Regions from separate parts of the Homo sapiens genome. Here region 2 is linked to region 1. Evidence: fine-mapped expression QTL. A gene starts in region 1. The other region holds a variant in brackets. All regions are shown on one strand. Distances are from middle to middle. Region 1 holds the start of RDH13 (retinol dehydrogenase 13). Region 2 overlaps GP6 (glycoprotein VI platelet).

Region 1 (5,370 bases):
GTTCTCTTTATAATAACCATATTAACAGCCAGCAATGTTCTGGCACTTACTATGGATTAAGTCCTTGTTATGAATGACTTCATGCCATCCTTCCAAATTCAATGACAGGTAGCTGGGCGCAGTGGCTCACGCTTTGTAATCCCAGCACTTTGGGAGGCTGAGGCAGGTGGATCACCTGAAGCCTGGAGTTCAAAACCAGCCTGGCCAACATGGTGAAACCCCGTCTCTACTAAAAATACAAAAATCAGCCAGGTGTGGCGGCGAGCGCCTGTAATCCCAGCTACTCATGAGGCTGAGGCAGGAGAATCGCTTGAACCCAGGAGGCAGAGGTTGCAGTGAGCTGAGATTGCATCACTGCGCTCCAGCCTGGGCATCGGAGAGAGACTCTCAAACAGGAGCTGGCGAACTGTGGCGCACTGCTTATTTTTATAAATAAAGTTTTATGGGAACACAGCTGTGCTCACTTGTTTTCACATCATCTGTGGCTGCTTCCCAGCTCCTCTGGCAGAGGAGGTGCAACAGCCACTGTGTGGATCACAAAGCTGAAATTATTTACTATCTGGCTGTTTGTAGAAAAAGTTTGCTGATCTCTGTCCTGGAAGTCAATGATATTAGGATTTCAGTTTACAGAAAAGGAGAAAAAGACAGGGAAAAACAGTGTTGTTTTTTTTTCAAGGTTGAGAAAATGAACATCTGAACCAATTGCCCATGTTATTAAATGTAAACATTTATTATTATTATTTTTGAGATGGGGTCTTGCTCTGTCACCCAGCCTGGGGTGCAGTGGCACAATCACAGCTCATCATAGCCTTGACCTCCTGGGCTCAAGCAGACCTCCCACCTCAGCCTCCCAAGTAGCTGAGGGTGCAGATGCGTGCCACCAAACCTGCTAATTTTTGTATTTTTTGTAGAGATAAGGTTTTGCCGTGTTGTCCAGGCCGCTCTCAAACTCCTGGGCTCATACTATTCTCCACTTTGGCCTCCCAAAGTGCTGGGATTACAGGCATGAGCCACCATGCCCAGTCTAAAATTTTTCTTTATTTTTAGTTTGGTAAACTATGCATAAAGTAAAATGTACCATCTTAACCATTTTAAGTGTACAATTCAGTGATGTTAAGTATATTCACATTGTTGTGCAACCATCACCACCGTCCACCTTCAGGTCTTTTTTTTATTTTGCAAAACAAACTCTGTATCTATTAAAAAACAGCTTCCCGGCCGGGTGCGGTGGCTCATGCCTGTAATCCCAGCACTTTGGGTGGCCGAGGCAGGTGGATCACCTGAGGTCAGGAGTTTGAGACCAACCTGGCCAACATGGTGAAACCCCGTCTCTACTAAAAATACAAAAATTAGCCGGGTGTGGTGACACGTGCCTGTAGCCCCAGCTACTCGGGAGGCTGAGGCAGGAGAATCGCTTGAACCTAGGAGGCAGAGGTTGCAGTGAGCTGAGATCGCCCACTGCTCTCCAGCCTGGGTGACACAGTGAGACTGTCTCTCAAAAAACAAAACAAAACAAACAAACAAACAAAAACAAATCCTGTGACTTCCCAATCTCATCTCCAGCCCCCTGCAGCCACCACTCTGTTTTCTGTCTCTATGAATTTGACTCCTCCAAGTGCCTCTTATACAGCATTTGGCATTGTGTAACTGGTTTAATACGTTTGAGATGGTGAGAGCTTAAGGTCTACAGGCCTAAGGTTTTTTTTTTTTTGACAGAATTTCACTCTGTCGCCAGGCTGGAATGCAGTAGGGCAATCTCGGCTCACTGCAACCTCCACCTCCCGAGTTCAAGTGATGCTCCTGCTTCGGCCTCCTGAGTAGCTGGGACTACAGGTGAGTGCCACCACATCCAGCTAATTTTTGTATTTTTAGTAGAGACAGGGTTTCACCATGTTGGCCAGGCTGGTATCAATCTCCTGACCTCGTGATCCATCTGTCTCGGCCTCCCAAAGTGCTGGGATTACAGGCGTGAGCCACCGTGCCCGGCCATTGACTAAGGTCTTAAAATAGCTCTTCCTGCCTGTATAATCTCCATTATGGCAGGGCTCATATAAGAAGATGACAGTTCATCTGATGAGGAAGAAAACTTACTCCTAGTTAGATTGGGTTGAATTCTTCCCTGTTTCCAGCGGTGTCTGCTCCTGGCACCTCAGGCACAGTCAGGGGTAGGAGGTGGTGATCAGATACACTCGCTGTGAGCAGTGCAAGGGGAAGCAGGTGCCCAGAGGTGCATCCCGGTTTGGTGGGGGTGACAAACATGGACAGGTAAGTGCAGGAGTGTGTGCAATACTCAATCTAAGAAAGGTAGTTCAGGCAGAGTTCAGGGAAGATATCTCTGTGCAGGGCCAGACATGGGGATGAGATTCTGATAATTTGGGAATGAATCAGGCCCCCAGCCCCTCCTCCCTCAGACTCAGCAGTCCAGGCACCCGGCCCTCCTCCCTCGGACCCAGAAGTCCATGCTCCCAGCCCCTCCTCCCTTGGACCCAGGAGTCCAGGCCCCCAGCCCCTCCTCCCTCAGACCCAGGAGTCCAGGCCCCCAGCCGCCTTCTCCTGCAGGACCCCAGGAGCTTGGGTACCCACAGGCTACTAGATCCTTGTTTCTGTGCATGGAAATTCTCAAATTATCTCCAAAAGTCTATGAAGAAGGTAAACACACATTTCCAGATGAGGGAATAGGCTGATATAGTTGAAAGACACACAGAGGGTCACAGTCTGGAATTGACAGTGGTGGGATTCGAACCTATTTCACTCCAGAACTGCGTAGCGCCTTATACGCTGCGGCAAGTGTGACGTCATTCGAACAAACCATAGGCCCCGCCCCCGGACTAGCCACGCCCACAGGCTCCTGAAACCACCAATCCCAGCTGTGACAGCGCTCAGGACCGATGCTCATAGGTCCCGTCCCTAGGATCCCCGCCCCCTCCGCCCGCGCCCCGCCCCTCGCAGCCCAGTTCCGGACGCGGGCCCAGCCGCGCCTGCGCCTCCGCTCGCCTGTGGCTGCGTCGCGCGCTCTTCCTCGGAGCTACCCAGGCGGCTGGTGTGCAGCAAGCTCCGCGCCGACCCCTGACGCCTGACGCCTGTCCCCGGCCCGGCATGAGCCGCTACCTGCTGCCGCTGTCGGCGCTGGGCACGGTAGCAGGCGCCGCCGTGCTGCTCAAGTGAGTACATTCTAGCCCCGCGTGCGCGGTCAAGGCGGGCCCCCAGCGCAGGGGCCGGGAAGGCGGCGGAGACCCCCGCCCCTCGCACCCGGGTCCAGGCCCCGTAGCTCCCGACCCGCAGTGCCCGCCCGGAGTGGGGCAAACCTGCGCTCTGGCCGGCCAGGTCACCGGCCCAAGGTCACTCGGAGGGAAGGGCGAGCCTGGGCCCTTGTAAATGTTGCTTTCCTTCCAGACTTTTAAACTCTTTATTTTGTTGTTTTGTATTATTTATTTGTTCGTTTATTTTTAAAGGCAGAATCTGGCTCTGTCGCCCAGGCTGGAGTGCAGTGGCGCGATCTTGGCTCACTGCAGCCTTGACCTCCTGGGCTCAGGTGATCCTCCCACCTTGGCGTCCCCAGGAGCTGAGATCACACGTGCGCCACCACGCCCGGCTAATTTTTGTATTTTTCGCAGAGACGGGGTTTTGCCATGTTGGCCAGGCTGGTCTCAAACACCTGCCCTCAGGTGATCCGCCTGCCTCGGCCTCCAAAGTGCTGGGATTACAGACGTGAGCCACCTCGCCCAGCCTACTTAATTTAAACTTTCTTAAAAATTAGCCTCTGTGGCTGGTGGCCACTGTATTGCATGGTGCCCTTCTCTCCTGTGGGTGCAGTGCTGTTTACCTGCTCAGCCTCCTGTTGCTGGACACTATCTTGTTGCCAGCGTTAGCCTCTGTGGGACATGGGTGTGGTGGGCAGAGTCGTGACTCCGTAGAGGGGTCCACGTCCTAATCCTCGGAAGGTGTGACGACATTACCTCACGTGTCAGAGGTTCTCGCTGATGTGTTAAGTGAAGCATCTTTTTTTTTTTTGAGACAGAGTTTCGCTGTTGTTGCCCAGGCTGGAGTGCAATGGCACGACCTCGGCTCACCACAACCTCCACCTCCCGGGTTCAAGCGATTGTCCGGCCTCAGCCTCCTGAGTAGCTGGGATTACAGGCATGTGCCACCACGCCTGTCTAATTTTGTATTTTTAGTAGAGACGAGGTTTCTCCATGTTGGTCAGGCTGGTCTTGAGCTCCCGACCAAAGGGGATCTGGCCACCTTGGCCTCCCAAAGTGCTGGGGTTACAGGCGTGAGCCACCGTGCCCGGCCAAGTGAAGGATCTTATGATTATCATGTAGTCTTTTTTTTTTTTTGGAGACAGGGTCTCTCTGTCACCCAGGCTGGAGTGCAGTCATGCTGTCACAGCTCACTGCAGCCTCACCCTCCCTGGGCTCAGGTGGTCCTCCCACTTCAGCCTCCCGAGTAGCTGACTCTACAGGCGTGCACCACCAAGCCCTGCTAATTTTTGTATTTTTAGTAGAGATGGGGTGTCAGCATGTTGGCCATGGCTGGTCTCGAACTCCTGACCTCAAGTGATCCTCCTGTCTTGGCCTCCCAAAGTGCTGGGATTACAGGTGTGAGGCACTGTGCCGGTCCTGCCTTGTAGTCTTATAGGGTCCTTATAAGAGGGAGCAGGAGGCTCAGTCAGAGGGGAGATGGAAGATAGAAGGAGAGGTTGTTGGGTGTGGTGGCTCACGCCTGTAATCGCAGCACTTTGGGAGGCCAAGGCAGGCGGATCACAAGGTCAGGAGTTCGAGACCAGCCTGACCAACGTGGTAAAACTCTGTCTCTACTAAAAATACAAAAGAAATTAGCCAGGTGTGGTGGCATGTGCCTGTAATCCCAGCCACTCAGGAGGCTAAGGCAGGAGAATCGCTTGAACCTGTGAGGCGAAGGTTACAGTGAGCTGAGATTGAGCCACTGCACTCCAGCCTGGGCGACAGAGCGAGACTCTGTCTCAAAAATAAATAAGTAAATAAATAAATAAATAAAGGAGAGGTTCCAGTGAGGATGCAGGTTGAAGATGGAGGCGGGGCCAAGAGTGGAGGAATGTGGCGGTCTGTAGGAGCTGGAAGTGGATTCTTCCCTAGAGCCTCCAGAAGGAACCTGACTCTACCAATACCTTGATTTATTCCAGTGAGACATGTTTTGGACTCTTGACCTGCCGAACTGGAGGAGGATGCACTTATGTGGTTTTAAGCCACTAAGTCTGTGGTAATGCGTACAGCAGCCTTGGGAATCTCGTGCAGCGGGCATTTTAAATTTAAATTTAAATTTTTTTGAGACAGAGTCTCGCTCTGTTGCCCAGGCTGGCACCATTTCGACTCACTGCAACCTCCGCCTTCC
Region 2 (5,370 bases), 38 kb after region 1:
ACCAGGCCCCTGAAGGCAGAACTAGGATTTGCACCCAAGCACTAGGACGTGAGCACAGCCTCCTTCCTCAACCACTGGGTGACTCGACCTCTCTGTGAGCTTGGGTGGGGGAGTGCGCTCTCTGGGAGGGATACAGCCAAAAAGCTCCCCAGCTCTTAGGCAGGTGTGGGGACCTCCCCAGTCTCAGCTGAGATGCTGGCTCCTGCCTTCAACATCAGACTTTCTTTTTCTCCCAGGAGTTTTTGCCAAACCCTCGCTCTCAGCCCAGCCCGGCCCGGCGGTGTCGTCAGGAGGGGACGTAACCCTACAGTGTCAGACTCGGTATGGCTTTGACCAATTTGCTCTGTACAAGGAAGGGGACCCTGCGCCCTACAAGAATCCCGAGAGATGGTACAGGGCTAGTTTTCCCATCATCACGGTGACCGCCGCCCACAGCGGAACCTACCGATGCTACAGCTTCTCCAGCAGGGACCCATACCTGTGGTCAGCCCCCAGCGACCCCCTGGAGCTTGTGGTCACAGGTAGGGGTAGTGCAGACCAAACCTTTCTTCCTCAGCCTTTATAGGTCCTGATGGCCATTCCAAGGGAGGGGCCATAAGTGGGAAGGAAGTGGGAGGGCAGGAAGCCCTGGGCTGCAGGGGCGGGGCCGTAGGTGGGAAGGAAGTGGGAGGGCAGGAAGCCCTGGGCTGCAGGGGCGGGGCCGTAGGTGGGAAGGAAGTGGGAGGGCAGGAAGCCCTGGGCTGTAGGGGCGCGGCCATAGGTGGGAAAGAAGTGGGAGGGCAGGAAGCCCTGGGCTGCAGGGGCGGCGCCAGAGGTGGGAAGGAAGTGGGAGGGCAGGAAGCCCTGGGCTGCAGGGGCGGGGCCGTAGGTGGGAAGGAAGTGGGAGGGCAGGAAGCCCTGGGCTGCAGGGGCGGGGCCGTAGGTGGGAAGGAAGTGGGAGGGCAGGAAGCCCTGGGCTGCAGGGGCGGGGCCGTAGGTGGGAAGGAAGTGGGAGGGCAGGAAGCCCTGGGCTGCAGGGGCGGGGCCGTAGGTGGGAAGGAAGTGGGAGGGCAGGAAGCCCTGGGCTGCAGGGGCGGGGCCGTAGGTGGGAAGGAAGTGGGAGGGCAGGAAGCCCTGGGCTGCAGGGGCGGGGCCAGAGGTGGGAAGGAAGTGGGAGGGCAGGAAGCCCTGGGCTACAGGCAGCTGGGAGAATGGAGGTTTCTTTTTTTTTTTTTTGACGAAGTCTCACTCTGTCACCCAGGCTGGAGTGCAGTGGCGCGATCTCAGCTCACTGCAACCTCCGCCTTCCGGGTTCAAGCGATTCTGCTGCCTCAGCCTCTCGAGTAGCTGGAATTACAGGTGCCTGCCACCATGCCCGGCCAATTTTTGTATTTTTAGTAGAGACGGGGTTTCACTATGTTGGTCAGGCTGGTCTTGAACTGACCTCATGATCTGCCCGCCTCGGCCTCCCAAAGTGCTGGGATTACAGGCGTGAGCCACCGCGTCGGACTTGACTACCATTCTTAAAGGGGGTTTCTTTCAAAAAAGAGCAGCATACCTCATAATGTGGTTATATACATGCAATGGAATATTATGCAGCCTTAAAAAAGAAGGAAATTCTGACACATACTACAACATGGATATACCTTGAGGACATTATGCTAAGTCAGTCACAAAAGGACAACTACTGTATGATTCTAGTCAAAGGAGGTATCTAATGTCAACACTGTAGAAACACAAAGTACAATGGTGGTTGTTAAGGGCCAGAAAGAGGAGAGAGAAGGAATTAGTGTTTAATGGGCACAGAATTTCAGTTTTGCAAGAAAAATAAGTTCTAGAGGTCAACATATTGTACCACAATGTGAACATACCCAACGCCACTGATCAGTACATTTAACAATGTCATATTAAATCAAACAAAATACATCATTTAGTTTTTGGTAGAAAAATCTGTTTTGCCCCCAGGGTCACAGTGAGGGGTAGGACACAGGAATCCAGAAGAAATAGAACTGAGGTTGAAAAAGGTGGACGGGAGCTGCATGCATTTCCTTGTTAATAGCCCAGAATGTGCCAGGTGTGCTTTACAAATGCTGCTGCTTTTTTTTTTTTTTTTTTTTTTGGGGGGAGTCTCACTTTGTCACCCAGGCTGGAGTGCAGTGGAGTGATCTCAGTTCACTGCAACCTCCACCTCCTGGGTTTAAGCGATTCTCCTGCCTCAGCCTCCTGAGTAGATGGGATTACAGGCACCTGCCATCATGCCCAGCTAATTTTTGTATTTTTCGTAGAGACAGGGTTTCACCATGTTGGCCAGGCTGGTCTTGAACTCTTGACCTCAGGTGATCTGCCTGCCTCGGCCTCTCAAAGTGCTGGGATTACAGGTGTGAGCCACCACGCCTGGCTAAGCCTTTTTTTTTCAGATGGAGTCTTACTGCGTCACCCAGGCTGGAGTGCAGTGGTGCGATCTCAGATCACTGCAACCTCTGCCTCCTAGGTTCAAGTGATTCTCCTGCCTCAGCCTCCCGAGCAGCTGGGATTACAGGTGCACACCACCACGCCTGGCTAATTTTTGTATTTTTAGTGGAGACGGGGTTTCACCATACTGGCCAGGCTGGGCTTGAACTCCTGACCTCAAGTGATCTGCCCTCCTCAGCCTCCCAAAGTGCTGGGATTACAGGCATGAGGCACTGCACCCAGCTCAAATGCTTATTAACATCCACAACAGTCCAGTGATGTAAGCTACTTTAGGCTCATTTTTCCGGTGAGGAAACTCAGTCACGGAGATGTTTCGTTATTTGTTCAGGACCCACAGCGACAGAGCACAGATTTATCTCATTTTCTGATTTCCCAGGAACCTCTGTGACCCCCAGCCGGTTACCAACAGAACCACCTTCCCCGGTAGCAGGTAGGTTCTGCAGGGTCCATTCTGGTGCACAGCGTATGAGGTACACGGACCCCTTCTCTCTCTCCTCTCTGCCTAGACTTCTCGATTTAATTCAGTTGGTTCTTTCACAGATTTGCTTTGTTTTAAAAATCCTTTATTTCTGCCTGTAAACAGGGTGGGTGTCCTAAGTAGTTAGATGTTAAGATGCTGCCCCCAATCCTACTCTAGGTGGATGGTTTATCACATATAACATGCAGAAGAATAATCGGAGTGGCTTGCTATACTGTGGAGTCCAGCTGGTTGAATATGGGTGACAAAAACAAACAAACTAACCAACCAACCAACCAACCAACCAAC[CAACA/A]AACCTGTAGAGTCCGGGACTCTGTTTCTGAGTCACTGAATGCATTGATCAGCGGTTCTCAAACTTCCATGAGCATAAGAATCACCTGGAGGCTTAAAGAATAGATTTCTGAGCCCCCAGGGCTTCTGCTTCAGTAGGTCTGGGGTGAATCCAGTCATTTTCATTCCTAGTAAGTTCCCAGGTGATGCTGATGCTATGGCTCCAGAATGCTGCTTTGAGAACCACTGCGGTAAGTTTTGTGTGAGGCGTGTTATCCCCTCCACTTTCACAAACATCTCAGCTGAATACGGTGTACCAGACTACGGCCTGCACTTTAAGAATATCATACGCTAGGCTGGAGGCTGGGCGTGTCTAACATTCCCTGTGTCTCAGAGTGAAGCACCAAGGCAGGAGAAACATGCTGGAAAGAGCCGAGGTTGATAAGGATGAGATTTGCGGGGTTGAGGGCAGAGTGAGGGCTATTATGCCTAGTGGGCAGGGACATGGAAGATGGTCACATACTGTGTGCGTGCATATGTGTGTGTGCGTGCATGTGCGTGTGTGCGTGCATATGTGTGTGTGCGTGCATATGTGTGTGCATGCGTGCATATGTGTGTGTGTGCATGCGTGCATATGTGTGCGTGTGCTTCTGACTGAATTTTTGAACTTTCTCTTTTGAAATGGTTCTAGAGTCACAGGAAGTCTACAATGATAGAACAGAAGAATCCCATGTGCTCTTTTTCCAGTTTCCTCTAATGGTTACATCTTACGTAATTAGAGTACAACATAAAAACCAGGAATTTGACATTGGCATAAAGTAGGTGTCTAGTTCTATGCCAATTTGTCACAGTTGTAGATTCGCGTCACCATCACCGCAGTCACTGTACAGAACTCTTCCGTCTCACAAGGGCCTCCCTTGGGCTACCCTTTTATATTCACACCTACACCCTTCTCCTTCCCTTGCCATCCCTAACTCCTGGTATCCATTAATTTGTTCTCCATCTCTATAATCTTCCATTTCTAGAATCTGATGTAAATGGGATCATCCAGTATGCAACCGTTTGAGATATCCTTTTGTCACTCAGTGCAATGCCCCTGAGGCCCATCCAAGCTGCTGTATGTATCAATGATGTGTTCCTTTTGATTGCTGAGCAATATTTCATGCTATATTAGGCCGATTTTGTGCTGCTATAAATATCTGAGACTGGATCATTGATAAGAAAAGAGGTTTAATTGGTTCATGGTTCTGAAGGCCGTATAGGAAGCAGAAGGCTGGCTTCTGCTTTTGGGGAGGCCTCAGGAAGCTTACAGTCATGGCAGAAGGCAAAGAGGGGGTAGCTGTCTCATGTGGTGGGAGCAGGAGCAAGAGAGAGAGAGAGTTGGGACTGGGGGACATGCCACACTTTGCAATAGCCAGATCTTGTGAGAATTCACTTACTATTGCAAGGAAAGCACCAAGCAATGAGGGATCCACCCCTATGATCCAAACACCTCCCACCAGGCCCCCACCTCCAACATTGGGGATCATAATCCAGTATGAGATTTGGTGGGAACACATATTCAAACTGTATCACATGGCATGCAAATACCACACGCTGTGTTGAAATCAAAATCAAAACAAGGTGTATTAAATAGGGAATCCTTTCCCCATTGCTTGTTTTTGTCAGGTTTGTTGAAGATCAGATGGTTGTAGATGTGTGGTCTTATTTCTGAGATCTCTATTCTGTTCCATTGGTCTATGTGTCTGTTTTTGTACCAGTACCATGCTGTTTTGGTTACTATCACCTTGTAATATAGTCTGAAGTCTGAGCCTGAGGCCTCCAGCTTTGTTCTTTTTGCTTAGTATTGTCTTGGCTATATGGGCCCTTTTTTGGTTCCATATGAATTTTATAGTTTTTTCTAATTGTGTGAGGAATGTCAATGATAGTTCAATGGGAATAGCAATGAATCTATAAATTACTTTGGGCAGTATGGCCATTTTCACGATATTGATTCATCCTATCCATGAGCATGGAATGTTTTTCCATTTGTTTGTGTCCGCTCTGATTTTCTTGAGCAGTGAATTGTAGTTCTCCTTGAAGATGTCCTTCACTTTCCTTGTTAGCTGTATTCCTAGGTATTTTATTCTCTTTGTAGCAATTGTGAATGGGAGTTCCTTCATGATTTGGCT

What was found. PIP is the estimated chance that this variant, and not a neighbour inherited with it, causes the effect.
Region 2: its variant is fine-mapped to the expression of RDH13 in whole blood (INTERVAL, PIP above 0.99).

The regions. Positions count from the first base shown.
Region 1 is chr19:55,060,759-55,066,128 of GRCh38, reverse strand. RDH13 (retinol dehydrogenase 13) reads left to right here and starts at 2,981. Exons shown (of 7, transcript NM_001145971.2): 1 at 2,981-3,161. The coding sequence starts at 3,097. RefSeq lists an enhancer at 3,671-4,638.
Region 2 is chr19:55,022,729-55,028,098 of GRCh38, reverse strand. GP6 (glycoprotein VI platelet) reads left to right here. Exons shown (of 8, transcript NM_016363.5): 4 at 237-521; 5 at 2,828-2,881. The region is part of intron 2 of GP6-AS1 (GP6 antisense RNA 1); the gene reads right to left. Among named protein-coding and RNA genes, the nearest start is that of GP6, 13 kb to the left of the region's middle. RefSeq lists an enhancer at 1-482. The variant CAACA/A (reference allele first, on the strand shown) is at 3,218.